4 linked regions of the Homo sapiens genome follow. The protein of the gene in region 4 interacts with the protein of the main gene of each other region in a biochemical or structural test. Each region holds a gene or a part of one and is shown on either strand. Other genes may lie near its edges.

The links.
Region 1: the proteins of NTRK1 (region 4) and GRB2 form a complex in vitro, tested with the Homo sapiens proteins (one study listed by BioGRID).
Region 2: of the proteins of NTRK1 (region 4) and NEDD4, one has a biochemical effect on the other in vitro, tested with the Homo sapiens proteins (3 studies listed by BioGRID, with this or other methods).
Region 3: the proteins of NTRK1 (region 4) and FRS2 form a complex in vitro, tested with the Homo sapiens proteins (one study listed by BioGRID).

The regions. Positions count from the first base shown.
Region 1 is NC_000017.11:75,332,678-75,339,709, forward strand, and holds part of GRB2 (growth factor receptor-bound protein 2), read right to left. Parts: intron 6,536-7,032; exon of another isoform or gene 6,123-6,535; intron 121-6,122; coding exon 23-120; intron 1-22. UniProt on the Homo sapiens protein: Non-enzymatic adapter protein that plays a pivotal role in precisely regulated signaling cascades from cell surface receptors to cellular responses, including signaling transduction and gene expression.
Region 2 is NC_000015.10:55,983,606-55,990,637, forward strand, and holds part of NEDD4 (E3 ubiquitin-protein ligase NEDD4), read right to left. Parts: intron 1-7,032. UniProt on the Homo sapiens protein: E3 ubiquitin-protein ligase which accepts ubiquitin from an E2 ubiquitin-conjugating enzyme in the form of a thioester and then directly transfers the ubiquitin to targeted substrates. Specifically ubiquitinates 'Lys-63' in target proteins.
Region 3 is NC_000012.12:69,465,566-69,473,395, reverse strand, and holds the start of FRS2 (fibroblast growth factor receptor substrate 2), read right to left. Parts: upstream 3,009-7,830; 5' UTR 2,866-3,008; intron 2,708-2,865; exon of another isoform or gene 2,690-2,707; intron 2,604-2,689; exon of another isoform or gene 1-2,603. UniProt on the Homo sapiens protein: Adapter protein that links activated FGR and NGF receptors to downstream signaling pathways.
Region 4 is NC_000001.11:156,856,896-156,863,864, reverse strand, and holds the start of NTRK1 (high affinity nerve growth factor receptor isoform 2 precursor), read right to left. Parts: upstream 3,001-6,969; 5' UTR 2,931-3,000; coding exon 2,719-2,930; intron 1-2,718. Other genes in the region: INSRR (insulin receptor-related protein precursor), read left to right, coding at 5,244-5,328. UniProt on the Homo sapiens protein: Receptor tyrosine kinase involved in the development and the maturation of the central and peripheral nervous systems through regulation of proliferation, differentiation and survival of sympathetic and nervous neurons.

The sequences.
Region 1 (7,032 bases), on a different chromosome or scaffold from region 4:
AGACTAATGGAGCTTAACTTACGGATGTGGTTTCATTTCTATGTAGTTCTTGGGAATGAAGCCGTCTTTTCCATTAAGCTCTGCCTTGTACCAGTTCTGATCACATTCTTCGTTCAAAACCTGAAAAGAAATAAGACAACAAAAAAACCCAATCATTTCCTTTTCCCTTTAAAAAGATAGTTACAAGACAATTATGCTATCTTTTAGGTCTGTGAACGGTTTCACTCGAAGTATTATCAGTTATACGGATATAAGACTCCTTTTAACTTCAAACAACCAGCATTATGTTAAACTCTGTTAAAATGAAACAGAAATTATCTCTGAAAATGAAAATTCAGGCTCCCAAACATCTGGAATGAAACCCTCAGTAAGGAAGGAGAAAGAAGAATGGCAAGTATTAGTTGTTTTTTTTTTTTAAGACGGAGTCTTGCTCTGTCGCCCAGGCTGAAGTGCAGTGGCGCGATCTTGGCTCACTGCAACCTCCACCTCCTGGGTTCAGGCGATTCTCCTGCCACAGCCTCCCGAGTAGCTGGGATTACAGGCGCATGCCACGTTGCCCAGCTAATTTTTGTATTTTTAGTAGAGATGGGGTTTCACCATGTTGGCCAGGCTGGTCTTGAACTCCTGGCCTCAGGTGATCTGCCCACCTTGGCCTCTCAAATTGCTGGGATTATAGGTGTGAGCCACTGTGCCCGGCCAGTTTTTTTGTTTGGTTTGGTTTTTCTAAGAGAGAAACCTGGAGAAGAGGTTCTGGAAAATGGCAAACACATAGGAGAATAAGGGAGCCTGACGAAGACAAAGTCTACTTTCTGGGAGAGAGAGGTGTCACAGCAGAACTAAGCAGCAACAGAACCTTTTATTAGACTCCTCTAGAGATCTTCCAACCGACCTCCAGAATCTACAGTGATACAGTCCTGGATCCCCTCATGGCTTCTCTGGGTTACCGCAAGTACGGGTCACCCACCAAACAGCTCCAGAACACTGCTGCTTGTGAGGACAACCATATGCCCTCGTATGGGAAAACTATTTTCAGGAAAAAGCATGGCAAATCCTACTCAGTTCAATAACCCAAATGCCACATTGTATTAAAGTTAGATAGTGCTGAAAGCATATCAACCAGCAGAATTCAGGCAGATGCCTTGGAAATCCTGGAACTGAACCACTGCATTCTACAGATGTAAAAAAACAAGATCAATGGTCAACCCAGGTTACGAGGTAGTGACCCCACAGAGCTAACATCATGCCCAGACTTTCATATTTCCAATGACCGTTCTCTCCAATGCTGCCTCTTGAATTGCATGTACCAGGCCATGCATAGGCTAGGCCATGACGCTGTAATGTGTAGAGTAATACAGTAGTCCTCCTTATCATGATGGATACGTTTCAAGACCTCCAGTGGGTGCCTGAAACCGTGGATAGTACAGGACTCTAGATATGCTATGCTTTTTCCTACACTATACACATACCTATACGTTTTATTTTTTTTTAGATTTATTTATTTATTTTTTTTTGAGACAGAGTCTCGCTCTGTCGCCCAGGCTGGAGTGCAGTGGCGCGATCTCGGCTCACTGCAAGCTCTGCCTCCCGGGTTCACGCCATTCTCTTGCCTCAGCCTCCCGAGTGGCTGGGACTACAGGCGCCTGCCACCACGCCCGGCTAATTTTTTGTATTTTTTAGTAGAGACGGGGTTTCACCATGTTAGCCAGGATGGTCTCGATCTCCTGACCTTGTGATCCACCCGACTCGGCCTCCCAAAGTGCTGGGATTACAGGCACGAGCCACCGTGCCCAGCCGATTTATTTATTTTGCCCAGGCTAGTCTTGAACTCCTGGACTCAAGGGATTCTCCTGCCTCAGCCTCCCAAAGTGCTGAGATTACAGGTGTGAGCCACCATGCCAGTCCTACCTATAAGTTTAATTTGTAAATTAGGCACAGTAAGAGATTAATGATGACTAGTAGTAAAATAGAAAAGTTTTAACAGGCCAGGTGTGCTGGCTCAAACCTGTAATCCTGGCAGTTTGGAAGGCTAAGGTGGGAAGACTGCTTTAGCCCAGGAGTTTAGGACCAGCCTGGGCAACATAGTGAGACCCTGTCTTTATATTTAAAAAGTGTAAAAGAAAAGTTATAACAATATACTGTAATAAAAATTTATGTGAATGTGTTATCTCTCAAAATATCTTTTTTTTTTTTTTTTGAGTCAGGGTCTTGCTCTGCTGCCCAGTCTGGAGTACAGTGACACCATCACGGCTCATGGCATCTCAACTTCCTGGGTTCAAGCTATCCTCCCATTTCAGCCTCCTGAGTACCTGGGACTATAGGCACTTGCCATGTTGCCCAGGCTGGTCTTGAACTCCTGCGCTCAAGTATCCTCCTGCCTCAGCTTACCTAAGTGTTGAGATTACAGGTGTGAGCCACTGCGATTGGCCAAAATATGTTATTTATATGTTGGATTGCAACTGGCCGCAGGTAAGGGGGGACTAGTATATACGGAGCAGAACAGAATCAGGTACAGCGTGAAAGCCACCCTATGAATTCTAGACTTACAACAAAAGGCAAAGGGCAGAAGGCATAAAGTTGGTAAAAGATAAAACAAAAATGTGAATACAACCCCAAAATGGTGGGCCCAGGAAAATGTTGGCTAGTACAGTGGTAATCTACACTGCATAACAAAGTTCTGAGAGGAAACTGGTAACATTCTTTACAAAATGATTTATTCAAGATGTTGAACAATGCTGTACTCGTAGCCAATCAGAAGCTGGATTGCTCTAAAGTGAGTGCTGTCTGTGTACTGCCATTCAAAGTGAGATGCAATAGAAAGGGTAGATAAGAATGACAGATGATCGACAACTAGCCAGGCTGCATTAATGACTACGCTTTCTTAACAGAGGGTATGCCCTGCAGAGCTTTGCAATGCTGGTGCTTATCTGCTATGCTTACCACACTCTGACTGCAGGTGCCAGACACTGGGTTTCAATGCTTAGGATAAGGTGATAAATCCTGAAAGAGCTAATAAATATGTGTAGCAAACTCTCAAAAAAAATTAGCTAGTGGTAAATCCCAGTGTATTCAAAGTTTCCAAGAGTCACATAAATATTGATAGAGTATTGATGAAAACTTTCTTCTAGTCATCATTTTGTTTCTCGTAAAAAAATCACATCAAAGACTGGAATGAGATAAAACAATATATGCAAGGTACACTCATAATTTTTAAGTCTTCATTTTAAAAACACTGCATTGTGCTGCAGCCAGCAATGGTGCTGTATTGATAGACAATTATAAAGCACACACCAAGGACAAGTTTGAGGAGGGAAAGTGCGCTTGAACCCTGCCGGGCCACCACCACCTGCCCCTGTACTGGCAGCACAGAAAACTCTGAATAGCCTTTGAGAAAAGGAGCTACTTTAAAAGTTATTTAAGGCCAGGATTCTGTTATCTACCAAAAATAAGGTCTAGAAGGAAAATGTGGTCTAATAATGACCTTATAAAGCATCATCCTATAGTAATAATAAAAACCCCACAGGCTTATAAACAATATTTATTATTTTATTTCAGAGACAGAGTCTACGTTGCTCAGGCTGGAGTAGCTGGGACTACAGGTGCGTGCACCCATACCAGCTATGAAGAGTTTTTGAAAATGTCTTAACTCCTGAAATGGTGAGGTGTGTCTACTTTTACTGTATACACTTGTTCTTGGAAGACAGAGAGTCAGACTGACAAAGAGCTGCTTGTAACCTATTTGTGCATCAAAACAGAACAAAGTAATCATTAGAAAGGGACACTTTTGATTTGTGACCAATAACTTTGCAGAAAAAGATAACTCTATTTACCTGCCAGGAGTTCATAGAGCTACACTCTCTTCTTGTCACCTTTACCAAGACAGAGGCAAATCCCTCTAAAAAGTGTCCCCTCCCCCAACAAACACAACTCCAGGGCAACTCCTAGATTTGACATCAACTTAGAACTATGGCTGTCTACAGAACAAAAATTATTACTTGGTGTTTAGTATGTTTTTCTCCCCCAGAAAGAAGGAAAATATGGAATTAATGCTTTTAAAAATGTAATTTTTTTTTTTGAGAGAGTCTTGCTCTGTTGCTCTGTCACCCAGGCTGCAGTGGAGTGGCATGATCTCGGCTCACTGCAACCTCCACTTCCCGGGTTCAAGTGATTCAAGTGCCTCGGCCTCCCAAGTAGCTGGGATTACAGGCATGCGCCACTATACCCAGCTGATTTTTGTACTTTTAGCAGACACGGGATTTCACCATGTTGGCTAGGCTGGTCTCATATTCCTGGCCTCAAGCAATCCACCTACCTTGGCCTCTCAAAGTGCTGGGATTATAGGCGTGAGCCATCATGCTGGCCAAAAATGTAACATTTGAGTACATGAATGGTTACGATTTTGGTTATCTGGAAAATTCTAGTATCCAGAATATCACGTTATCAGATAGCCCAGGTATTGCTGCACATACCTCTAAACCTCTTCACTCTAGAATTTCAGAAAAAGCTTGGTTCTGCCGGAGGCAAAACACAGGATGAACAATGCAGCTGCAACCCTGAGCCAGAGACCAGGCCTTTCAACCCAACTGCTCCACCTGCACTGGGAGCTTGCACACACAAGCCCTGAAACTGGAGTGATGTAATTAGATGCTTAAAAATTAAGTTTTATTCAAATGTTTAAGTATACAAAACAGCTACTGAAGTGTCGGGTTAAAAAAAAAAAAGAAAGAAAAAGAAAACAAAACAGCAAAGAACACAAATGAATGTTGAAGAGCTCGAGGTGGCAGAGACCAGAAGCATCTGAGGATGAGGCTGCACCTACAAAGATTGTTTCATTTGCTGTGGCTTTAGGTGAAAGCTCACATCCTTCACAAATAATTTTTATTTTATTACTGTTACTATTTTTTTTTTTTTTTTGAGATGGAGTCTCGCTCTGTCGCCCAGGCTGGAGTGCAGTGGCACAATCTCGGCTCACTGCAAGGTCCGCCTCCTAGGTTCAGGCCATTCTCCTGCCTCAGCCTCCCGAGTAGCTGGGACTACAGGCGTCTGCAACCACGCCCAGCTAATTTTTTATATTTTTAGTAGAGACGGGTTTCACTGTGTTAGCCAGGACGGTCTTGATCTGACCTCGTGATCCGCCTGCCTCGGCCTCCAAAAGTGCTGGGATTATAGGCGTGAGCCACTGCGCCCGGCCTACTATTACTACTACTACTACTACTACTACTACTACTATTATTATTATTATTATTATTATTATTATTATTATTATTATTTATTGAGACAGAGTCTCACTCTGTTGCCCAGGCTGGAGTGCAGTGGCACAATCTCGGCTCACTGCAACCTCCGCCTCCCAGGTTCAAGTGATTCTCTGCCTCAGCCTCTCGAGTAGCTGGGATTACAGGCACCCGCCACCACGCCTGGCTAATTTTTGTATTTTTAGCAGAGATGGGGTTTCACCATATTGGTCAGGCTGGTCTTGAACCTCTGACCTCAGGTGATTTGCCTGCCTTGGCCTCCTGAGTAGCTAGGATTACAGGCGCCTGTCACCATGCTCAGCTAATTTTTGTATTTTTCATAGAGACGGGGTTTCACCATGTTGGCCAGGCTGGTCTCGAACTCCTGGCCTCAGGTGATCTGCCCACCTTGGCCTCCCAAAGTGCTGGGATTACAGGCATGAGCCACCGTGCCCGGCCACAAATAATTTTTAAAGGCCTAGTCAGACTCCTGAGCATGAGCAAGCTGCTCCCATCACTGTGTCTTCACTTGCTTATTCACTCCCTCTGCACAAATCCACGGGTGAGCTCACAAAAAGTTTCCTTCAGCTTTAAAATCTCCAAGGAATGTTTTTAGCTATTACCCCACAGCTGCATTTTCTATTCCAACCCCCATATTCCCTCGAGTTATGACTTTGTAGCCACACGACACTTTGGTTTAACGGAAGCAGATTGATCAAGAGATGAGATTATAAGAGGAGGAAGAGACAAGTTTCAGTGAAGACAGTTCTTTTTGTTTTTTGGTTTTTTTTTGCAAAGAGACTGAAAATAATGTTAAGAGCCCAAATCAGGAAGAAATTTAAGAGATGAGGAATGAGGTGAGCTTTACACAGAAGAATTAAAAATATACAAGTCCTTTCTGTGCTGATAGCACTCACGCAAATGGTCAACTTTCCTAAAATTCACTGGACTTTCTCTAAGAAGTGTGGCAAGCATCAACCCCACAAAGTGACACAGTACAAGAAGGGAAAGGATTCTCTGTATGCCCAGGGAAAGCGGCGTTATGACAGGAAGCAGAGTGGCTATGGTGGGCAGACTAAGTCGATTTTCCGGAAAAAGGCTGAAACCACAAAGAAGACTGTGCTAAGGCTTGAGTGCGTTGAGCCCAACTGCAGATCTAAGAGAATGCTGGCTATTAAAAGATGCAAGCATTTTGAACTGGGAGGAGATAAGAAGAGAAAGGGCCAAGTGATCCAGTTCTAAGTGTCATCTTTTGTTTTATTATGAAGACAATAAAATCCTGAGTTTATGTTTTTTTTTTTTTTTTGAGACAGAGTCTTGCTCTGTTGCCCAGGCTGGAGTGCAGTGGCACGATCTCGGCTCACTGCAAGCTCCGCCTCCTGGGTTCACGCCATTCTCCTGCCTCAGCCTCCTGAGTAGCTGGGACTACAGGCGCCCGCCACCACGCCCGGCTATTTTTTTGTATTTTTAGTAGAGAGGGGGTTTCACTATGTTGGCCAGGATGGTCTCGATCACTTGACCCCCTGATCCACCCACCTCGGCCTCCCAAGAGTTTATGTTTACTTCAAAATATATATATATATGTACAAGTCAATGGAAGGGGACATGAAGGAACTCTAGAGGTGCTGTTTATCTCACATTTCCTGACCTGGGTGTGTTCTGTTTGTGAAAGTTCACTGACCTATAATGATATATACATTTTCCTTTTTCTTTCTTTCTTTTTTTTTTTTTTTGAGACAGCTTCAGTTTTCACTCTTGTTACCCAGGCTGGAGTGCAATGGCGCCATCTCAGCTCACTGCCACC
Region 2 (7,032 bases), on a different chromosome or scaffold from region 4:
AGATATACTTTTTTTTTTTTTTTTGAGACAGAGTGTTCTTCTGTTGCCCAGACTGGAGTGCAGTGGCGCAGTCTCGGTTCACTGCAACCCCCACCTCCCGATTCAAACAATTTTCCTGCCTCAGCCTCTCAAGTACCTGAGACTACAGGTATATGCTACCATGCCTGGCTAATTTTTGTATTTTTGGTAGAGACAGGGTTTCACCATGTTGGCCAGGCTGGTCTCGAACTCCTGACCTCAAGTGATCCACCCATCTCAGCCTCCGAAAGTGCTGGGATTACAGGTGTGAGCCACTGCGCCCAGCCTGTTATAAATACTTTCATCTTACACTGTTTTCCTTAATAACACTTATAAAATATTGATGTGTGATAATTTATTTAATGTTTCTCTCTCCCTCTTGGCTATAAAATCGGTAAAGTATATTCTATATCATTATACCTCATGCCCTGACCCACGTGCCTGATACATAGTGTTCATCAAATATTTGTTAAGCAAATACAGAAATCAAGTACTTCAGAGGTCCACCTAAAAGCTTTATCAAGAAAAGACAGAAGATGTGGAAATGAGAGCATAACAATTACAAGTTAATTTTGCACACATTCCATTCACATTCATCATATTCCTGAGAAAAAGTCTCTTCTGTTAAATTATTTTATTTGCGTATTAGTAGCAGGAAAGTGGAAGGACCAAGTGTTTGTTATGAATATAACACTTCTCCCTACTGGGAGAAGGTTCTTGAACAAATCAGAATCTCATATTCCTTATCTCTAAAATGGGGGTAATACTTCCTACTTCTGCAATAATGTTGTGATGATTACAGCTAAAGTATGAAAAAATCTAACCTGGTGCCTGGCACAGAGTGGGTATTCAGTTAAAGGCAGTTGCTATTTATTTAGGTTGACTCTTTTTCCCAAAGGAGAATACTTTCACTAAAGCATCTTTATTGACGGCCATGATTGTTTGTTCATATTACTCTCTTCATTGCCCCAACATGTCTCGCATCAGTTGAAGCCAGACATTTGAGTCCAGCCATGAGTTATAATAATGGGCTACAGACATATTTACTCAACTTTCAGAAAAGCCTTATCAAAATGCTTTTTGTTTGTGCTGTGCCTTTCTCCCTGCATTTATCTCCAGACTTCTCCTATCCCCTCCCCATTCATTTATCCTCTTAAACTTTGATACTATTGGCAAGGAGGCCAGAAGAAATAGAAGTCCTAAAGAAGAAGTAACATCAATTGCCACAGAATTCAGCAGAACAATGGGTTCAGCAATTCAAATCAGCTATCTGACTTAAAGATTCAGCTCTGGAGTAGATAACCATGATAGATTGAGAAGCAATTGTGTTCAACTGGTTCCTGCATGTCTCCAAATGCTATAGAATATTTCTGAGACAGCAAGGGGATGGGAGAATCAGCAGACTTAAATATCCTGCTCTGACTGATGTTTAATTATGCAAGATTCACCAAGTAAGTGACAGGGCCAGAATTCCAACACAAAAGAATCCCATTTTCTATACCCCTGCTCACCCTAAATGATTTATTTACAAGGTCTCTTCCAGCTCAAAGATTCTACTCCTATGTGATATATGAATTCCTAATTACCTATAAAAGAAATTATAGTTCCTTCTCCTTTTCTGTTCCTGGCGCAGAGCAGTCAATCACAGGCCACTACAGAAAATGTCTGTGGAGTGAGGGTGAATTTCACAGAGGTGCATGGTTGGCATGCTCGCCAGCACGGGGCACTGAGGGGAGGAGGGAGATACCATACAGAGATGCATCAGAAGGGTGCCCACTGGCAAGGGTACTGAGGAGGGGAGGACGGCGTTGCACAGGGATGCTGCATAGAGAATAGCAATATTCCCACTGGCATCCAAGGATGTGAAGAGCTGAAGTGGCAGAGGAGATGTCTGCGTGGTCAGGAAGTTAGTTACACTGAACACATAAGTCAATGAACAAATATATTAAGGATAATAAAAGTCAAATTTTTTCACTGTTAGAAAAGGTACTTATGGCTATAAAGGAACTCAGGTATTAGGTTTGAATTGGAAAAAATCAGTATGAATTCATGATTTTTAAATTTATGTATTTACAGATTGATATAGAAATAGCTATAGATCTTTGTGTATACTTATATATGTGTGTAGAGTACACATACACACACACACACACACACACACACACGCTTAACTGTTCAGAGATGGTCCAAGAGTATATCCCAGTAACAATGAGCACACCAAGTACCCAAATTGTAGCATGTAAAAACCATTTTATACTAAATAGGACCAGTGCTTCTAGGGAAAATGGCTGATTGTAGATAGCTGAGCCAAGCAAAATACAAGAGAAGCCTGGAACAACTTCTGCCAGAAAGTGTTCAAAGAATGATGGGGACTTGTTACGAAGACCTAGGAACCTCCTTGAAAGGGCTCCCACTGGACAAACTGGGACAGTATGAGCAATAAAATATTTAATGACAGTAACTGATTACAACCTGCTGAATAAAGTGGGATTTTACAAGTCTATGCTGATATAAATAAATGACAGGAAAAGGAAAGCTCTTCTTACATAGAATGCCAACTAACAGAGATGGAAATAAAACAAAATAGTGGTGTTTGGTTCAGATAGAATTCATCAATGGATGCTAAAACTGAGGATGAAGACTTGACGAGAAATAGGATATTGGCATAATCTTACGATATGTCCCCTGAAAATACTATCAATTATAAAGAGAAAAAAGGTGACATTACAGAGAAGAAACCTGGCAGACACCAAGGTGACCAAGTGATTAAGGTCACTGACAGTGTTGGGACAAGTCAGCATCATGTGTCCCCTGGTGTGATGCATGCGAAGAACACAGCATCATTTCTATGATTCCTGCCAAGAGAGCGTGACCTGAACATGGTCATCAAGAAACACTAAACAGACCCAAACAGACCCAAAATGAGAAACATCGTAGGATGTAAGGCCTGTCCTTGCTTTTTTTTTTTTTTTTTTTTTTTTTGTGAGACGGAGTCTCGCTCCGTCGCCGAGGCTGGAGTGCAGTGGCATGATCTTGACTCATTGCAAGCTCTGCCTCCCAGGTTCACGCCATTCTCCGGCCTCAGCCTCCCGAGTAGCTGGGACTACAGGCACCCACCACCACACCCGGCTAATTTTTTTTTTTTGTATTTTTAGTGGAGATGGGGTTTCACCATGTTAGCCAGGATAGTCTCAATCTCCCGACCTCGTGATCCACCCGTCTCGGCCTCCCAAAGTGCTGGGATTACAGGCGTGAGCCACCGCGCCCGGCCAAGGCCTGTCCTTCTTAAAACTGTCTAGGATAAGAAAAACTGTGCATGTGTCTTTATAGCAGCATGATTTATAGTCCTTTGGGTATATACCCAGTAATGGGATGGCTGGGTCAAATGGTATTTCTAGTTCTAGATCCCTGAGGAATCGCCACACTGACTTCCACAATGGTTGAACTAGTTTACAGTCCCACCAACAGTGTAAAAGTGTTCCTATTTCTCCACATCCTCTCCAGCACCTGTTGTTTCCTGACTTTTTAATGATTGCCATTCTAACTGGTGTGAGATGATATCTCATAGTGGTTTTGATTTGCATTTCTCTGATGGCCAGTGATGATGAGCATTTCTTCATGTGTTTTTTGGCTGCATAAATGTCTTCTTTTGAGAAGTGTCTGTTCATGTCCTTCGCCCACTTTTTGATGGGGTTGTTTGTTTTTTTCTTGTAAATTTGTTTGAGTTCATTGTAGATTCTGGATATTAGCCCTTTGTCAGATGAGTAGGTTGCGAAAATTTTCTCCCATGTTGTAGGTTGCCTGTTCACTCTGATGGTAGTTTCTTTTGCTGTGCAGAAGCTCTTTAGTTTAATTAGATCCCATTTGTCAATTTTGGCTTTTGTTGCCATTGCTTTTGGTGTTTTGGACATGAAGTCCTTGCCCACGCCTATGTCCTGAATGGTAATGCCTAGGTTTTCTTCTAGGGTTTTTATGGTTTTAGGTCTAACGTTTAAATCTTTAATCCATCTTGAATTGATTTTTGTATAAGGTGTAAGGAAGGGATCCAGTTTCAGCTTTCTACATATGGCTAGCCAGTTTTCCCAGCACCATTTATTAAATAGGGAATCCTTTCCCCATTGCTTGTTTTTCTCAGGTTTGTCAAAGATCAGATAGTTGTAGATATGTGGCATTATTTCTGAGGGCTCTGTTCTGTTCCATTGATCTATATCTCTGTTTTGGTACCAGTACCATGCTGTTTTGGTTACTGTAGCCTTGTAGTATAGTTTGAAGTCAGGTAGTGTGATGCCTCCAGCTTTGTTCTTTTGGCTTAGGATTGACTTGGCGATGCGGGCTCTTTTTTGGTTCCATATGAACTTTAAAGTAGTTTTTTCCAATTCTGTGAAGAAAGTCATTGCACACGTATGTTTATTGCGGCACTATTCACAATAGCAAAGACTTGGAACCAACCCAAATGTCCAACAATGATAGACTGGATTAAGAAAATGTGGCACATATACACCATGGAATACTATGCAGCCATAAAAAATGATGAGTTCATGTCCTTTGTAGGGACATGGATGAAATTGGAAACCATCATTCTCAGTAAACTATCGCAAGAACAAAAAACCAAACACCGCATATTCTCACTCATAGGTGGGAATTGAACAATGAGATCACTTGGACACAGGAAGGGGAATATCACACTCTGGGGACTGTGGTGGGGTCGGGGGAGGGGGGAGGGATAGCATTGGGAGATATACCTAATGCTAGATGACACGTTAGTGGGTGCAGCACACCAGCATGGCACATGTATACATATGTAACTAACCTGCGCAATGTGCACATGTACACTAAAACTTAGAGTATAATAAAAAAAAAAATTAAAAAAAAAAAAAAAAAAAGAAAAACTGAGGAAATGTTACAGATTAGAAGAGACTGCAAAGACATGCCACGTAAAAGCAATATATGTTCCCAGATAGGTTCTTAGACCAGAAAAGGAAAAAGAGAAATTATTAGTAACATTTATCAAAATTTGGATGGTATCTGTGGATTGAATGGCATTGTTGTATCAGTGTCCATTTCCTAGCTTGGAAGGGGGTATGGTTGTTATGCAGGAAAGTATTCTTGTTTTAGAAAAATACACACTAGAGTATTTAAAGATGATGGGGCATTGTGTCTGCAGCTTGCTCTCAAGTGGTTCAGAAAAAGATTAATGAAAATGGCAAAAAAAGGTGATGGAACAATTGCAGTGAAAAGGTTAACAGTTGCAGAATCTGTATGAGAAGAATACTGGAGCTCTTTGTGTTGTACTTTCAACTTTTCTGATGGTTTAAAATAATTTTAAAATAGGACGGGCGCGGTGCCTCACGCCTATAATCCCAGCACTTTGGAAGGCCGAGGCAGGCGGATCATCTGAGGTCAGGAGTTCGAGACCAGCCTGGCCAACATGGTAAAACCCCATCTCTACCAAAAATACAAAAATTAGCTGGGCGTGGTGGTGCGTGCCTATAATCCCAGCTACCCTGGAGGGTGATGCAGGAAAATCGCTGGAACCTGGTAGGCAGAGGGTGCAGTGAGCTGAGATCACGCCATTGCACTCCAGCCTGTGTGACAGAGCAAGACTCCGTCTCAAAAGTAAATACATAATTTAAAAATAAATTATTTTAAAAATACACTATATTTATTCACTTCTTTAGTCCCTGCTCCATGAAAAATACTTTACAATGATCCTGGAATTAAAGAGTTGCAAAAAAGCACTAATGGCAAAAACAATACATGAAAGATTGGGAGAAATTACTAATACAGCTGCTGCTTAACCTATGCTTCTCCTCCTTTGTGTGTAGTACATAAAGGTTTGGGAAGTTTGTTCCCAGACTGAGTAAGGGTCAGTTTCTGCTCAGCCTTAGTGGGTCCAGAAGTATCAGAATATGCCCTTCTTACCCTGCTACTTATGCACTGTTGTGGCTGCTGCCACCAGGGGCATCTATTATTCTGTATGTGCAAACTGCACTCTCCATACCGATAGCGGAGACTCTGAACTCTTTCCTCTTTATTTCCTTCCTTCTTTTCCTTGCTTCAGTCAGCCTTTCTTATAGGAAACAGAAATCATTCTAGATGCTTTAAGAAGAAAGAAGCTAATACAGGGGATTAGATGCTTACAAAATTTTTGGAAGAGCTGGAAGAGTAGGTGCTAGGCTGGACTTCTAGAGCAGGGGTCCCCAACCTTAGGAACCAGCCACACAGCAGGAGGTGAGTGGCAGGCCAGTGAGCAAAGCTTCATCTGTATTTACAGCCACTCCTCACCGATCACATTACCTCCGGAGCTCTGCTGCCTGTCAGATCAGCAGCGGCATTAGATTCTCATAAGAGCATGAACCCTATTGTGAACTGTCCATGCAAGCGATCTAGGTTGTGTACCCCTTATAAGAATCTAATGCCTGATGATTTGTCACTGTCTCCCTGTCTCCCATTACCGTCACCCACACTTGGGACCATCTAGTTGCAGGAAAACAAGCTCAGGGCTCCCACTAATTCTACATTACGGTGAGCTGTATAATTACTTCATTACATATCACAATGTAATCATAATAGAAGTAGAGTGCACCATACATGTAATGTGCTTGAATCATCCTGAAACCACTGGACCGCATCCCCGGTCCATGGAAAAACTATCTTCCATGAAACCGGTCCCTGGTGCCAAAACAGTTGGGGACTGCAGTTCTAGAAGATCAGAAACATGGCAGAACTGACCCATCCAGGAAGCTACTACCTCTCCCAGTCAGAAAGGTAGATGATCAGGAGTCATCACCAGAACTGATGACTTCAAGAATATAATCAATCTTGACGTCTGGAAGCCACTACCACCACTACTTCGGTGACTTCCTATCAATATGTACAAAGCAAGTTACCAGATACTGGAATACTTTCGCAGAAAATTTAGATGTTTACATGACTGTGCTTATCAGCAGAAAAAGCCAAAGAAACAAAACAATATGCTCCACCTCATTTCCACTCTGCAAATCTCAAGTAAGT
Region 3 (7,830 bases), on a different chromosome or scaffold from region 4:
CATAAATCTTTGTCTTAGAAAAGTCTTATTCTCTGTAACATTAAACTCAGGTTACCAGTTTATTGGGGAGCAACATGATGCAGTAGAAACACACAGGCTTTGGCACCAGACAGATTTGGATTCAAATTGGGGCTGTTACATGCTAGCCACATAGCCCAGGCAAGTAACTTAACATATTTGAGCCTCACTGTCCTCATTATTAAGGTACTTACATATTGCTGTGAAGCTAAGAAAATGCTGTAAACAGCAACTAGCATTAAGTCTGTTCAGTAAATGCTCAATAAACAGTAGCTTCTGAGCTATCTCCACAAATTTCCATTACTTAAGCTAAAAATGAACCCTTTCTTCTTTTGTATAATTTACTCCAAACTTTACCTCAAACCACCCATAAGTATTTACAAATGTTTATGTTGTAAATGTTTACACAAATCTTATATCCCCTTCTAGATTTCAAATTCCTAAAAACCAAAAGTTTAATCTTTATATCCTAAAATGCCTAGTATAGCGCTTTTCATGAAGCACTCAACACCCATCGCCAATGTTAAGTCCCAATTACAAAAAAAATTGTTAGTATGCCTAAAGAATACAACTCAACTCTTCATGATTTCAGAAATTATTACCAAAACATGAAACTCAACTGTTATGGCTATACCTTTATTTGCTCCTTACATAGTTACCTAACATAGCATAGCAAATAGCATGCTATGCATAACATAGCATAACATGCATAGCAAATGCTCAGTGTTTGTTGAATTGACTTGTATAATATAAAAATACAATCAGTATCTGATTTTCCCCAATCACCTTTCTCTGCTCTTAAAACTCTTGAAGTATTTCCCTTAAAAATACATTGTCATACCTGCAAATCTGTAACTACATCTAACTTAACTATTTTTCCAGATTCTCTCAATTCCAATATTCCAATCTTATGCTCTAAATAATTAAGTACTTCACATGTGGAAGAAGCTACAGTTTCTATCTAAATTTAAAAGTTGTGCAAATATGCTGGGGATGGTGGCTCACAACTGTAATCCCAGCACTTTGGAAGGCCGAGATGGGAGGATCACTTGAGCCCAGGAGTTCAAGACCAGCCTGGGCAACATAGTGAAACCTCGGCTCTACAAAAAAAAAAAAAAAAAAAATTAGCCAGGTGTGGTGGTTGGTGCCTATAGTCCTAGCCACTCAGGAGTCTGAGACAGAAGGACTGCTTGAGTCCAGGAGTTGGAGGCTGCAGTGAGCTATGATGGGGCCACTGTGCTGCAGCCTGGGCAGCAGAATGAGGCTGTCTCGAAAAGAAAGAAAAAAGAAAAGAAAGGAAGAGGAAAAAGAAAAGTTGTGCAGCTAATCTCTCCACAATTTTTTCCAAGGACTTTAAAAATCATCTACCCTTTGCCTGTTCAAAATCAACAACCTTGAAATAAATTTTCCTTTGCATAGGAAAAGCTCACTGAACTTGTCACTTCAGTCTATTTTTCCTGATTCATGATACCACCTCCCCTTTCAGGGGTGGGAGGAAAGAGAATGACATAAGTACCCAAAAAACTACAGAATAAACCCTAATCTACACACAAGATGAGAGTTGCAGATAGCGTCACTGGTTTCAAGAAGGTGATTTGTGAATACTTTACGCTGCAAAAACAGTGGCCATCTGCTAATAGCAATAATCTGCAGTAACTGCATTCCCTTATAAAAAGTTTTTAAATCACCATTTATTGTGGAAAACCCATATTTCCTACAAACCTTTCAGCAGTAAAGTTTACTACCTAAAATCTGTTCACTAAACCTACCTACATCACTTTCTCCCCTAGGAAATCCTCAGTTTATCCGAAGTAAACACTTCATGGAATAAGTTTAAACAAAACATCTCTGCCCACCTGTGTGAAACTCTGCATTGCAGCAACAATTTTAACAGTGTAAGGAATCTCTCAAGAAAATCCAAGAACAATTTTTCCTTAAGAAAAATGACAGTTCCAAATATGAAGGTAAACAAACTTTGGGAGAAAGGATATAACTGTCCAACTCTTTAAAATCAATTCGTACAGCCTCTGAATGAACTCATCATACAACTGTGACATCAGATAGCCAAAAGAATTAAGAGTGTAGATTAGAGAAAAGCATCTTTTTTTTTTTAGTATGTCTGCAAAAAAAGGCGGGGGAGGGGGTGTCTAAACTACTGATTTTCCTTAAGCAAGTTTTTTCTTTAAGTTTACTTCAACAACAGCTTCAGCAAGCTTTCAAGTGAGTAAAGATGATACAGAGCATGCTGGTGCCACAGCGACCTACGTATCCAGGACCGGTTCCGAGCCCAGTCCAAATCGATCCCGGACAACCCTGAAGCAAATCTGGATGAAAAGCCCTGCAAAAGATCCCTGGCATGTACAGGCAGCGCCCCACCCTGGAGGGAAAAGACGACACCCCTGGGACCCGGGTTAATTACTGACCCCAGGACAGACCCAGAGGAGGCGAAAAGTCGGGAACTGGAGCCCAAGATTGAGTCTGGTGTCCAGCTACTACCCCAGGCCGGACACAGAATACCAAACTAGGGAGCGGCGAGGTTTGGGGCAGCACACATGAGGGGGGTCGGACGGACGAACAGAGGCCCAGCCCATCCCCACTCTCGAGTCCCAACAGCAACAACAGCTCTGGGAACCCCCTCCCTGGCTCCGCCCCGCCCACCCCATGGACCCACAGCCAGCTCTTCCCGTCCCGCTGGCCCGGAGAAGTCCGCGGCGGTCGACAATCCCCTTCCCCGGACGCCGGCAGCCGAGCCCTCAGCCCGGATCCCGAAGCGGGCAGCGGGGGCACGAGAACGCCAGCTCCGACGCGGGCCCGCGGCCGTCCCAGTCCGTTTCCCTAGCCACTCACCGTCCGCCCAGGTGCTGAGAGGGAGCAGGGCGCGGGTCGGCGGGCGCGAACCCCCAGACTCCGACCCGCGCTGGAGCCCCTACTTGGAGCAGATCGAGTCTCAGCCGCTGTGCCTACAAGGCCTCTCTCCGGCCCGAATCTTGGAAAAGCACTTCCGGGGGAGCGGGGGAGGGAAGGGTTTTGGCACCGGAACTGCTCTCAGCCCGGAGCTGCCAGGGCCTCCAGGGCGGGGCGGGGCCTCTCTCGCCGGGCGCCCACAGATCAGCCTCTGGGCTCCTAACTAACCCTTTCCGCCCCGCGCCTCCTCGATTCCCCGGCTACTGCTGCACCCTTTGCTTTAACTGCTGTTTGAGTTGTTTTACTCCAGCCAGCTAATTTTACAAATAAGGAAACCGAGGCTCGGAGAATTAGGTGCAAGAATCCAGTGCCTACACCCGGCCTCCCGACTCCCTTCAGTGTACTCTACGCTCCAATCTGCCTCCTTTAAAAAATAATGATAATAGTTAACATTTATTGAACGCTTACTACGTGGTAGGCACTGTATTAAGTCCCTTCGGGTGCATTAACTTATTTAATCATCCCCAAACTCCTTGGGGTTGGTGCTATTATCTACGTCTTGCAGGGGAGAAAAACGGTCAAAGATACCAAACCCAATCTCACAAATGTTGGTTGATTTTAATTCACGTGTGTATAAATCTCATCTACCTATACCAAGATTTTGAAATTATTTAAAAACAGGGCTCAAACTATATTCCTATATTCTGTCATCACTGGTGACTTCAACAGAGGCGAGAGCTGGGGTTGGGGGGTTGGGGGGGTTGGGGTGGGGATCTGGAATCTTTTTGCTTGTCTCCTTTTATTTACTTTTATTTTTTCACCCTGGCAAGTTATAAAATCATCTCTGCATTGTAGGAATCCAAAATGATAATGCATGATAAACATTTCAGAATGTCTGGCATTGGATAAAAGTTAACGATTCTTATACCTCATCAGCAATAGGCAATAGAAAAGATTAGTTAAGGAAATAAGAAAGAGTAGGGGTTGGCCGGGCGCGGTGGCTCACGCCTGTAATCCCAGCACTTTGGGAGGCCGAGGCGGGTGGATCATGAGGTCAGGAGATCGAGACCATCCTGGCTAACAAGGTGAAACCCCGTCTCTACTAAAAATACAAAAAATTAGCCGGGCGCGGTGGCGGGCGCCTGTAGTCCCAGCTACTCGGGAGGCTGAGGCAGGAGAATGGCGTGAACCCGGGAAGCGGAGCTTGCAGTGAGCCGAGATTGCGCCACTGCAGTCCGCAGTCCGGCCTGGGCGACAGAGCGAGACTCCGTCTCAAAAAAAAAAAAAAAAAAAAAAAGAAAGAGTAGGGGTTTTTACAACTGGAAAAATACAGGTGCTTGTGAAGCTCCATGCAGTGATAATATGAGGACCCACAGAGTTACATACCAGACAGGGAAAAGGGATGGAAAGGAGGAGGGCGTGGGATTCCTCAGCCACAAAATCAGAAAGGCACCAGATATCTGAGGCAGATTCTGTATCTGGGATGCAGGGAAAGAAAAAAAAGCCTCTTAGCAATGCATACTATCTGCAAAACAAATGTACTAACATCTCTTGAAACTGGGGGGGGGGGGGGTGGCGGGGAAGATTTTTAAATGTTTCTACTATGAAAGGCAGGGGAAAGGAAAAAAGTTGAAAACCCATTATTACAAATTTAAGATGCAAACAATGCCACTGCTCTTGGCTTTATTTACAGGGCTTTCTTACTTTATTTTTGTGATCGCAGAAGTGTTGGCAAATACTTCCGTAATACTCAAATTCAAGCAGCCTTTTGTGCCTCAGAGTGTGAAGAAGTAAAAAACAGCGTGGGTTGGCAGGACTCACCGACATCTCTTTTTACTCAAGGCCTAAAGGGATAGTGAGAGGAATCCTGAATCACAGATATTATCAGGCTCTGTGTGGGATGCAGAGGTGCTAGAGGTTAGTCATTTAATCTGGTCATCTAACTGGTAAATGGAGCCGCCTGGGTTTGAATTTGCAGACCATATTCTCAGATGCTTTTCACCACTATCCCAGTGGTTCTCAAATTTGAGAGTGCATCAGAACCACCTAAAGGGCTTGTTAAAACAGATTGCTGGGCCCCACCCCTAGAAGTCCCTGGACTAAGCCTCTCAACATCATCTGTGAACTTGTTACAGATGCACATTACTGGGTCCCGCCCCAGATCTTATGAATCAGAAGCTCTGGGGTGGGACCCAGCAATCTGTGTTTTAACAGGCCCTCCAGGAGATTCTGATATACTGTCAAGTTTAAGAACCACTGCATAAGATATTAAGAACTAATATCTTGTCTTCCACATATTCCTCTTTTTTTCTAATTTTTTCCAACAGGGATAACTCTTACCGGAGCAAAAGTTCTTGCCGTTGAATTAAATGACCTATTGAAGGATTTTTATTCATGTTTTGCTCTCAGTGAAAGAAGATGAGGCTAGAAAAAAAATTACTATAATGGAGGATTCATTTTGATTACTTTAAATTTGTACTGAAATGTAACCAGATAATACTGGGTTGGGGGTGGAACTAATATTATTTGGGAATTACTCTATGCCAAGGCTTTACACGCGTTTTCTAAATTAATCTTCACTACATTGCTATGAGGTTTTATGGTCTTAATTTTAGAGATGAGGATAACTGAGACTTAGGTGAAGTAATTGACTTAAGGCCACATTCTTGTTAAGGGGCAGAATCAGGATTGTGCAAAGATCCCTCTAATTCCAAAACTCATGTTCTTTCCACTTCGTGGCTGGAGCCTGGAGAACCAAATTCCACTGTGGGCTCCACTGCCCCAGCTATGCAACATTGATTAAGCGATTTAATCTCTATTTCGATTTCTCCATCTATAAATAATGTTATCATAAATCTGCCCCACCCACACTGGAATGTCAGAACAAATGAGGAAATGAAAGTGTAAGCACTTTCAGCTTTTTAAAGAAAAACAGTAAAAAGGCAAGTTATTAAGGCATTGTATGTTTAGGCAAGTGTTGCTGTGTGATTCTGGACGGTGAAGTCTTTCCCAATTATCTCCTGATTCATAAAGAAGAGTGCCAAAGAAAAAGTTGTTTGACTTCATTTACCAGTGTCTCCTGGAGGTAGAAGATGACAGAGGATTGTATGCATCTCTTGCAAAAATTACAAGCAATCTCTCACCAGGCTCATTCGGCTCCAGGTTGTTGCCAAATTGCTGGCCCATCCTCATCTTAGAGATGTCTTTTCTCCTAACCCTTTTCTTCTGTCCATTCCAGGCATCCCTCTACCCGCCTGCCTCTACCCACTAGGAAAGACTTAAAATTCCTTTTACTTTATTATGTAGAAGGATTTAACTCTCAATCCTCATCTCAGGCCAGACTCCAGGCCACCTTTATTGACACAATTACCATGTTGTGCAATTCCAGGGGGTGCTATTCACAAAGAATACAACATGAATGATGCTCAAGAGGTGACAAACACAAATGATGCCCCCTGGAACTGTGCAAGGCTGTGGCCCTGTCTATGCATAGCTCCTACCCCCAAAATCCATTAAGGTGTTTTGTTAAACAAAAGAGCCATCTACTTGGGTGTCCACCCTTTGCCAAGCTTTGAAATAATGGGGTTCTTTGATTTTGTTTGTTGGTTTAATGCAGATCTGATCCTAACCACACAGCTTAAGTTCTAACTTCCACACTCTACTGTGACACTTTTCACTCTTTTCTGTGACATTGTTGCCTATCTCCCCACTAGACTTGTGAGTTTCTGAAGACCTTTTTATATTTTGTCTTCCTCATCTTTTATTCATGCCTCAAAAACATTTGCTTTGAATAACAGCACAGTGTAACTAGTACATATGTATTAGTGTAAATATTTATGGCAAAGATTTGACAAATGTATTGTTTGATCCAGAGAGTTTTGTACCATGAAATAAATTGAGTCAAAATTTTAAAATTGAGAAATGTCATGTAAAAAAAAATCCCAATTTCTGGCATCCCTTGAAAATTTAAACACTCTGGCAGACATCTGGCATGCATCCACAAGGCATCAGTGACTTTAGCTAGATGCAGCATCTCTCTTCATCAAACAGTGCAATGAGTTGGCCTTACCCACATGTGGTATCTTTATGGTAGACAGAGTTTGGGACCACTGGTCCCAAAACATCATATGGATGTTTTAAAGAAACAAGTATAGAATTTTGCCTTATATATTTTACATGTGCTCATAACTATTCAATGTATTTTGAGGTAATTTTAAATTGTTTTTCTGGGATAGCAATTGTGGGGTACTACACTGTACTTTTTTTTTTTTTTTTTTGAGACAGAGTTTCATTCTGTCACCCAGCCTGGAGTGCAGTGGCACGATCTCAGCTCACCGCAACCTCCGCCTCTCAAGTTCAAGTGATTCTCCTGCCTCAGTCTCCCGAGTAGCTGGGATTACAGGTGCCCACTACCATGCCCGGTTAATTTTTGTATTTTTAGTAGAGACCGGGTTTCACCATGTTGGGCCAGGCTGGTCTAGAACTTCTGACTTCAGGTGATATGCCCGCCTCAGCCTCCCAAAGTGCTGGGATTACAGGTGTAAGCCACCATGCCTGGCCACGTTGTACCATTTCTAAACAAGCAAGGCAAGTGCAGACATCAAATTATAAATATCATTACCACCAACGTTTTAATGGAGTTGTAGCTAATGTTATTTGTCAACAGCCTTGGAAAGACAAAAAATGAATAATAGCAATTACTTAAATAGATTTGATGACAAACGACCCTATAGGGTATATATATATTTTTTTAATTTATTTTTTCCTGGATGGAGACACAAGCAAAGCTAGTTCAGGTAGCTAGCAAATGATGAGGTCAGGATTAGAATCCAAGCAGTCTGTCCCCAGAGACACACTCATAACCACTAAACTAATATTTATTGATCCTTTTCTATGTGCCATGGCCAT
Region 4 (6,969 bases):
GCACACACTCATCAGTGGGAGGTTGTACTGAAACACTTGCTACCACAAAAGGCCAAGGCTTATCCCTGCCACTGCCCCACCCAGCACAGACGAAGCCTGTGCTCATGCAAATGTGTGTTCCCAAACGTGCCCGCCCAAGGGCCACTGCCTGGTCTCACCTGTACTACACACACACACAGACATACACACACACACACACACACAAACATCTCTGCACCCCCATAGCCTCTGGCCCCTCTTCACACCCAAGCAGCAACCCCTACTCCACCGAAACCTCCCCTACCATCTTTTCAGCAGATCAAGCAAGAGTCTTACAGGCTATCAGTTAGGGACCCCAAGGAGGGACCCAGGAAAGAGGAGAGGAGCAATGAGAGGAGGCAGTCAGAGTGTCGAGGAGGGGAGAAGAGGCACAGACTGGCTGACTTACACAGCAAGAGAGAGAGAGAGAGAGACAGAAAGATGGAAAGGCTCAACGAGGAGGGTGGGGGCAGACGGGCAGAAAAACAAAGAGAGAGTGAAACAGAGACACTGAAAGAGAAACTGACAGGAAGAGGTCAGAGAGATAGTGACAGGCAAGAAGGAAGACAGATAAGGGGAGGGAGACAGACAGATAAGGACAGAGAGCTACAGAAAGCGAGATAGACAAGAAAGAAAGAAGAATGAGTAGGCATTCGGGGCTAGGGGACAGCTGACGCCCTGGGGCCTGCCTAGCTGCTGGATCCGACATACCAGGGAGTTCCTGAGAACTCGGCTGCCCTGTAGTGACATGTTAGTGTGCCCCCCCCACCCCAACAATACACATGCCAGGGGCCCCTGACTCACTGACGGTTCTCAGAACTCTCCCCCTCTACCCTCTAACTTTCCCTAACTTATAGGAACCAGGACCAGCCTAAGTGACCCCTCCCTTCCTCCTTTCCTCCCTTCCCAGCCTTGGCCCCACCAGGACAGCCAGGATCAGGTCCTAAGTTTCCCTGTGGACTTAGTAGAGGCCTATAAAGTAACCTCCACTGACTCCGAGGGAGGCCAAGTCCCTATTCTACCCACCCCCCAGCCCCTGCCCAGAGGGTTTCAAGCTGTAGGGACCCAGGGAGGGGGTGAGAATGCAGTGGGCTGGCAGGGTGTGTGGGAGCTGTCAGGCCAGCGTGCTCAAAGCTGCCTCAAAGCTGCCTCATTCGTTTGGATTCATAATCAATCTGTCTATTCGAGTCCATTATCTCCTCGTTAGCTCTGCGGGTGAGTGAGGAGGGAGGGGGCTGTGCAGGCAGTGGGGAGGGGGATGTCAGGCTGCAGCCCCACCCAGGGGGACATCTCAGCTCACCACCCTACATGCTTGCTAGTCCCCAGTTCTGGCCTGTCCACTCCCCCTACCACTCCCATCCCTACCCTGCTGGACCCACTTGGGGCTTGGAAAGAGTTGGGAAACACGAGCCCTGATGGGGAGCACTCAGGAGTCTGGACCCCAATCTGAAGGCCCAGGGTGATGAGAGAACTGGACTAGGACTGGCAACCTGTCTCTCATGCCCCCTCCCATCATGCAGAGACCTAGGCCTAGACCAAGACAAGGCCATCTCCTCTACTCCTGGTCTCCCTAGAGCTATTAGAGAGAGAGATTGAGTGCCTTCCCGTTAATTACCATGAGATACCCAAGGAACTCAGTGCCAATTACTGCAAGCTGCTCAAGTAACTTCCAGACAGTGATGATCCTCACCTCGGATACCTTCCAGCCCATCACAGCACAAGGCCAAGGTTCCTTGTCCACCCTCGAAACCCCAGGCCACAGGAGGAGGATTTTCTAGCAGTTCTCCCCTCTTCTAGATGTCTTGCTGGCCATGATAGCCATATGTAATATTCAAGTATTTTCCAGCCATCACCATATGATGCCTGAGTACCTCCAGGCCAGTCATTACCGCATACTCCCATAGGTTTCACCAGCTGCTAAAAAGTACTTGAGTATTTTGTAACCAATTCCTGCAGAATGTCAGAGTCCTGCAGAATGCTGAAGATTCCTCCCAGCTTCGTGTACCAAAGGGAGGAGGGTCTCTCAGCAAGGGCCCTGACTCCCCGCCCCAGGTAGAGAGACAAGGTTGGAGAGGGAGATGGGAGTGGGGAGAGAAAATCCAGGAGGGGGTCCCATTTCCCAGATCCAAATCAACGGGTTCTGGGGGAAGGAATGGTAAAAATGGAAAGAGGAGAGCTCAACCACTCAGCTCCTCACCGCCTCCCACCAATGCCAGCCAGCTCAATCCCCAATTCCAGAAGAAAAGCTAGGGTTGCCTCCTCATAACAAGAAAGTGGGCGGGGGCTGGCTTGCCCCTAGAAAAGGAAAAAGGCAGTAAGGGTGACAAACTGGGGACTTCTCTGCTGGTAACCATCCTTCTCTGTAGGACAGAGCAGGGGCTTCTGGCTGAGCTCCAGAAAGCGCCTTCTAGACGGCTAGGCTCTCTCAGACCTGGTCCACGGAGATTTCCCCCTTCGATCTCCCTGAAGCCGGCGGCCCAGCTGCCCTGAACACTAGGGGACATCCAGGCACTGACCATAAAGCTTGCTAGGGCAGCGGCGGCTGCGGAGGAACGCCCGGGCAGCGCCGAAGGCTGCGTGGTGCCAGCCTTCCGCCGTGCTCGTCCTGCCTGACCAGCAAACAAGCAGCGAGTCCGCGCCCTCGGGGCACTGCAATGCCTGCCTGTCCCCGCGCCCCCCCACCGCCCGCCGGACACTCACAGCTCAGTCAGGTTCTCTGCGCCGGGCAGGTGGTGGAGGCTATCCAGGGCCCCATCCCGGGTGCATCGCAGTCCCGAGGAGCCGTGGGGGCAGCAGGCATCGGGGCAGGGTGCGGCGCCCGCAGATGCCAGTATCAGCCAAGCCAGCAGGCTGCCCGGCCCCGCAGCCCAGCTGTGCCAGCCAAGCTGCCCGCGCCGTCCGCCTCGCAGCATCGCGGCGGCGCCCGCCTCGCTCAGGCGGGGCAGCCGTCTGTGCGCTCCCAGCTGCAGCTGCCAGGCCTCCCCCGACATGTGCGCTGGGCGGTGTTAAAGACCCAGCCGCCAGGAAAGGGCGGAGCCAGCGGCCCCCGCCCGGCCCCGCCTTGCCCCTCTTCTCCACCCGCTTCCTACTCTCTGACGCCCCCCCCTCTGCCCCCTCCCCTGTTAGGGGCCCCCAGCGTCAGCCTTCTCCCCGAGGATCCGCCTCAGCTCCGGCAGACGCTGAGGGGCCGCAGCAGAACGCCTCGGAGGTGTCTGCTGAGGCCGGAGGTGGGAAGCTGATACGTTATTTCTCTCAGCTTAAAGCAGCTGCATTTTTACATTTGGGGAGGAGGGAAGATGACTGCGTTGAGGAAAGGTTGCTGTCCAGGTCATCCTAGCCAGCCCCAGGCTCAGCGCTCCATCCTCGCGGCGCGCGTGCCTAGGGGAGTGAGCATGTCACTTGGAGTAAGTTAGGTAGAACATTCTCCGAACTCTAGGAAGAAAACGAAAAGGACTACCAAAGGATCAATCGCAGAACCTGGGGAGGAAGACACAGACGGGGCAGAGAAAGGGAAGGGGTCGCCTAATCCGGCCGAAGGGAGTCCGGAGAGCCAAGACCGCGCCTCCAAGAGAAGCCACAGGGTGGCGCGAGAAGCCCGCGCGCAAAGGCGCGAGCTCCCCGCCCGCGCTGGGTGCCTGGGGGTGCGATCTGCAGCCCCCAGTGAGCAACGCCTCAGGTCTCAGCTTCAGTCCCTGACCCCGGCCAGCCAGCGCCGGCCCCGGGGCAGGATAGGGCAAGGCAGGGCAGGGCTGACATCGATCGCCTCCCTGACAAGAGCATCGATTTATTCGTGAAGAAATTAATAGATCTTCTCTTAGCTCCTCGGACGCAGGAGCCGCCCGCGGGTGGAGCTGAGGACCGCGCACCTTGGAGGCCGAGCACCTGGAAAGCCCCGGGATCCCCAGCACCCAGGGCAGCAGAAGGCTGGTCCCAACCCCTCCCACCGCGCAAGCCTCCGTGGCTGCACTAACCCATCCGTCTCAAGCTGGGGAGAGCGAAGGGAAGAGGGGTGTCTCTTGGCGGGGAGACAGGCAAGGCCCCAGGGAGCGGGGGAAGGACGACCTCCTAGAGGCTCACGGTTCTCTCCGCCAAGGCCCCAGCACGGATGGCCCCCCAAGTCCCCGAGACAGGGACACACAGACCGACCGAGCAGCCTGAGCTCAAGAAGGTGACCAGACGGAGGCAGAGCCCTACACAGTGATCGCCTTCTTCCTCGGGATCTTGGTCAGAACCAAGGGACTAGGCGGTGACGGAGCCTGGCGCTAAGGGGTCTCCAAAGAGGACAAGGAGGCCTCCTAGGAGGCTGAGAGGGGCTCCCAGAGGCCAAGGGCTGTCCACGTTCTCCCGGGTCGAGGCTGCCAGAAGTTACCCCGCAGATGTCAAGGCACCGGGAAGCAGAATCTAGACACAGCGCTCCCCAGAAGCCCGGGCGCGCTGGCTGCCCCTCCGGCGGTGCAGCCCCACTTGGAAGAAGCCTGTGGTGGGGACAAAGGGTTGGCGGGAGCCGCTGCAGCCGCAGCGGGATTTGAGGAAGCTCAGTTCTTGGCCCACCCTCCCCCCGTATTTTGGCCTTATTTCCCCAACAGACCTGTCCTCCCCTCAGTTGTCAGGCTAAATATTTTGACTTGGCGGGAGGGGTGGAGAGAACGGAAAGGTCCCTGCGAACCAATCTGTTTAGGCGGGGGGCGGGGAGGGCGGGAGCTGGGCGCGGCCCCTGCGTGCCGGCCCTGGGAAGGACCGCAGCCAGCACTGTCAGCTGGCGCTGGGGGGCCGCGCGCCCGGAGGGATCCAGGGAGACTCTCCCTGCGGAGTCCCACGCGCCCCGGGACCCCCGCTGCCCTCCTTGGGAGCGGTCCCCAGCCTGCTGCTCCGCCCTCAGGGTTGGCTGGCCTCTCGGCCTGCCTTTTGCTCAGAACCCTGTGTCATTTTCTCCCTCTGGAGGCCCGAGACTCTCCCTGTCACTGTCTGCATCTCTGTCCCCATCTCTCAATCTCATGCTGAGTCTCTCTGTCTCCAACTGCCTGTCACTGTCTTTGTGTCTCTGTGACTCTCATTTCTTTTTTTCTGTCTCCTGCTGTCTCTGTGTGGGATTCCTTGTCTCTCTGCCCCTGCCCTCCCTCTCCTATCTGAACCCTGGTCTCTGTGTCCCTTAGGGCTTATCACACCGTTCTCCCCAGAGTCACCGGGAGGAGAGCCGGGACTGGACACAAGCCAGGGCTGGGACAATGGCAGTGCCTAGTCTGTGGCCCTGGGGAGCATGCCTGCCTGTGATCTTCCTCTCCTTGGGATTTGGCCTGGATACAGTAGAGGGTGAGTCCCCAGAACTGGCTCCCAGACCCCTACCTCCCTCCCAGCCAGCTGGGAGGCCAAAAAACTGAGCTTGCAGCCACAGCACCTCCACTTACTCTGCACTGGAACATGGGGGTTGGGGTTAGCGCTCAGGAGAACTGCCCAGCAGGAAAAGCAGTTAGTTCCCCACATAAAGGTGTTTTTCCCTCAGCTCCCTCAGAGATGAGAAGAGCTTCAAAACGTGGACAAGTAGATATCTTCCGTCCCTACTAGTGAAACTGTGATCCCAGTGAAGCTTGCCTGAAAACCCAAATGAGGCCGTGAGAGTGTTAGAAGTCATCTCTAGGGCCACTGAATGGGAAGAGGCAGGGGTGGGATAGGTAGCTGAGAACCAGGCACCATTAAGTAATGGAGGCAATGTTGCCGACAGGAAACTGCAGCTCTGAGAACTAAGGGTAAAGCTAGACTGGGTCCTGAGCTCCTGCCTCCAGGGCCCTGTCCTGTGTCCCCCCTCTTAGGGCCCAATCCCTACAGGGAGGAAGGCTGGTTTTGGGGGAAGACTGCTCTTCCTCAACACCCCAGGGCCTGTCCCCCAGGCTAGATACTGCCCATCAGTACGTTTTAGAGAGGAGGGGTGGGGGGACTATATAGACTAAATGACCCTCATGGAGGTGCTGGGGGATTGGTGGAAAGAGGAAAAAGAGCTGAGGGTGGAAGCTTCAAAAAGGGAAGGATTAGGAGGTATCCCCTTCCCCAGTCCCACCATTCCCCTCCAAACTGAAGCAGCTCAGGAATCCAGACTCTGTGCTTGCCCGAGAGGTCCTATGATGCCCCTCAGACTGGGGGCTCCCAGGGGCAGGGGAGTCTCCTCTTCCCATGGAGATGGGAGAGTGATGCAATGGGCTGGGTAGGAGGTCCCCTAAAGGGTGCTAGTCACAGATCCTCTGTCTGTAAGGCATAGCACCACTCCCCCGACCACCGAACCCCCTCCTCTTCTGCACAGCAGATGCCAGCTGGGAGTGTGGTTGTCAGGACAGGAGCACATCCTTGGAGGGGCTAGTATTTGCTCAGGGGACCCAGATGTTCTGTTCCCAGTGCAGCTCTGCACAGAGCCAGGTCCTGAGGGAAGGCAGGGGTTAAACTGTGAAGGTTTTAGATTTGTTTTTCCAAATGACTCCCATCAGGGGAGCCCTGGAGAGGCAGGGGCATGATGGGAAGTGGGCGCCTGAGAGAACCCCTATCTGCCTCGCAGAGCCTGATTGGCTTTTGCCTGGAAGGGATAGAAGTGTTTTCTCATTCTCTCTCCCTCTTTTTTGTGTGTGTATCTGCGTGGGCTCAGACATACACACACACACACACACACACACACACACACACACACACACACACACACATACACAGCTGCTGGGCAGAGCCAAGCTCAGGACCATTAATGACAACAGGGAGAAGATGTGAAGTAACCCCCAGGGAGCCAGCCTTGCCTGCCCACCTCTCTTAACAAACTATCAGGAATGGGGCCTGGATAGCGTGGCATGTGGCATGTGGTGTTTGTGATAACACCGGAGGGCTCGGTGGGAAGGGAAGTAGAGGCTGGAGACGTTAGCAGGAGCTGAATGTCAGGCTGAAACATTCAGACTTGAATCTTCTGCAGTGGGGAGCCAC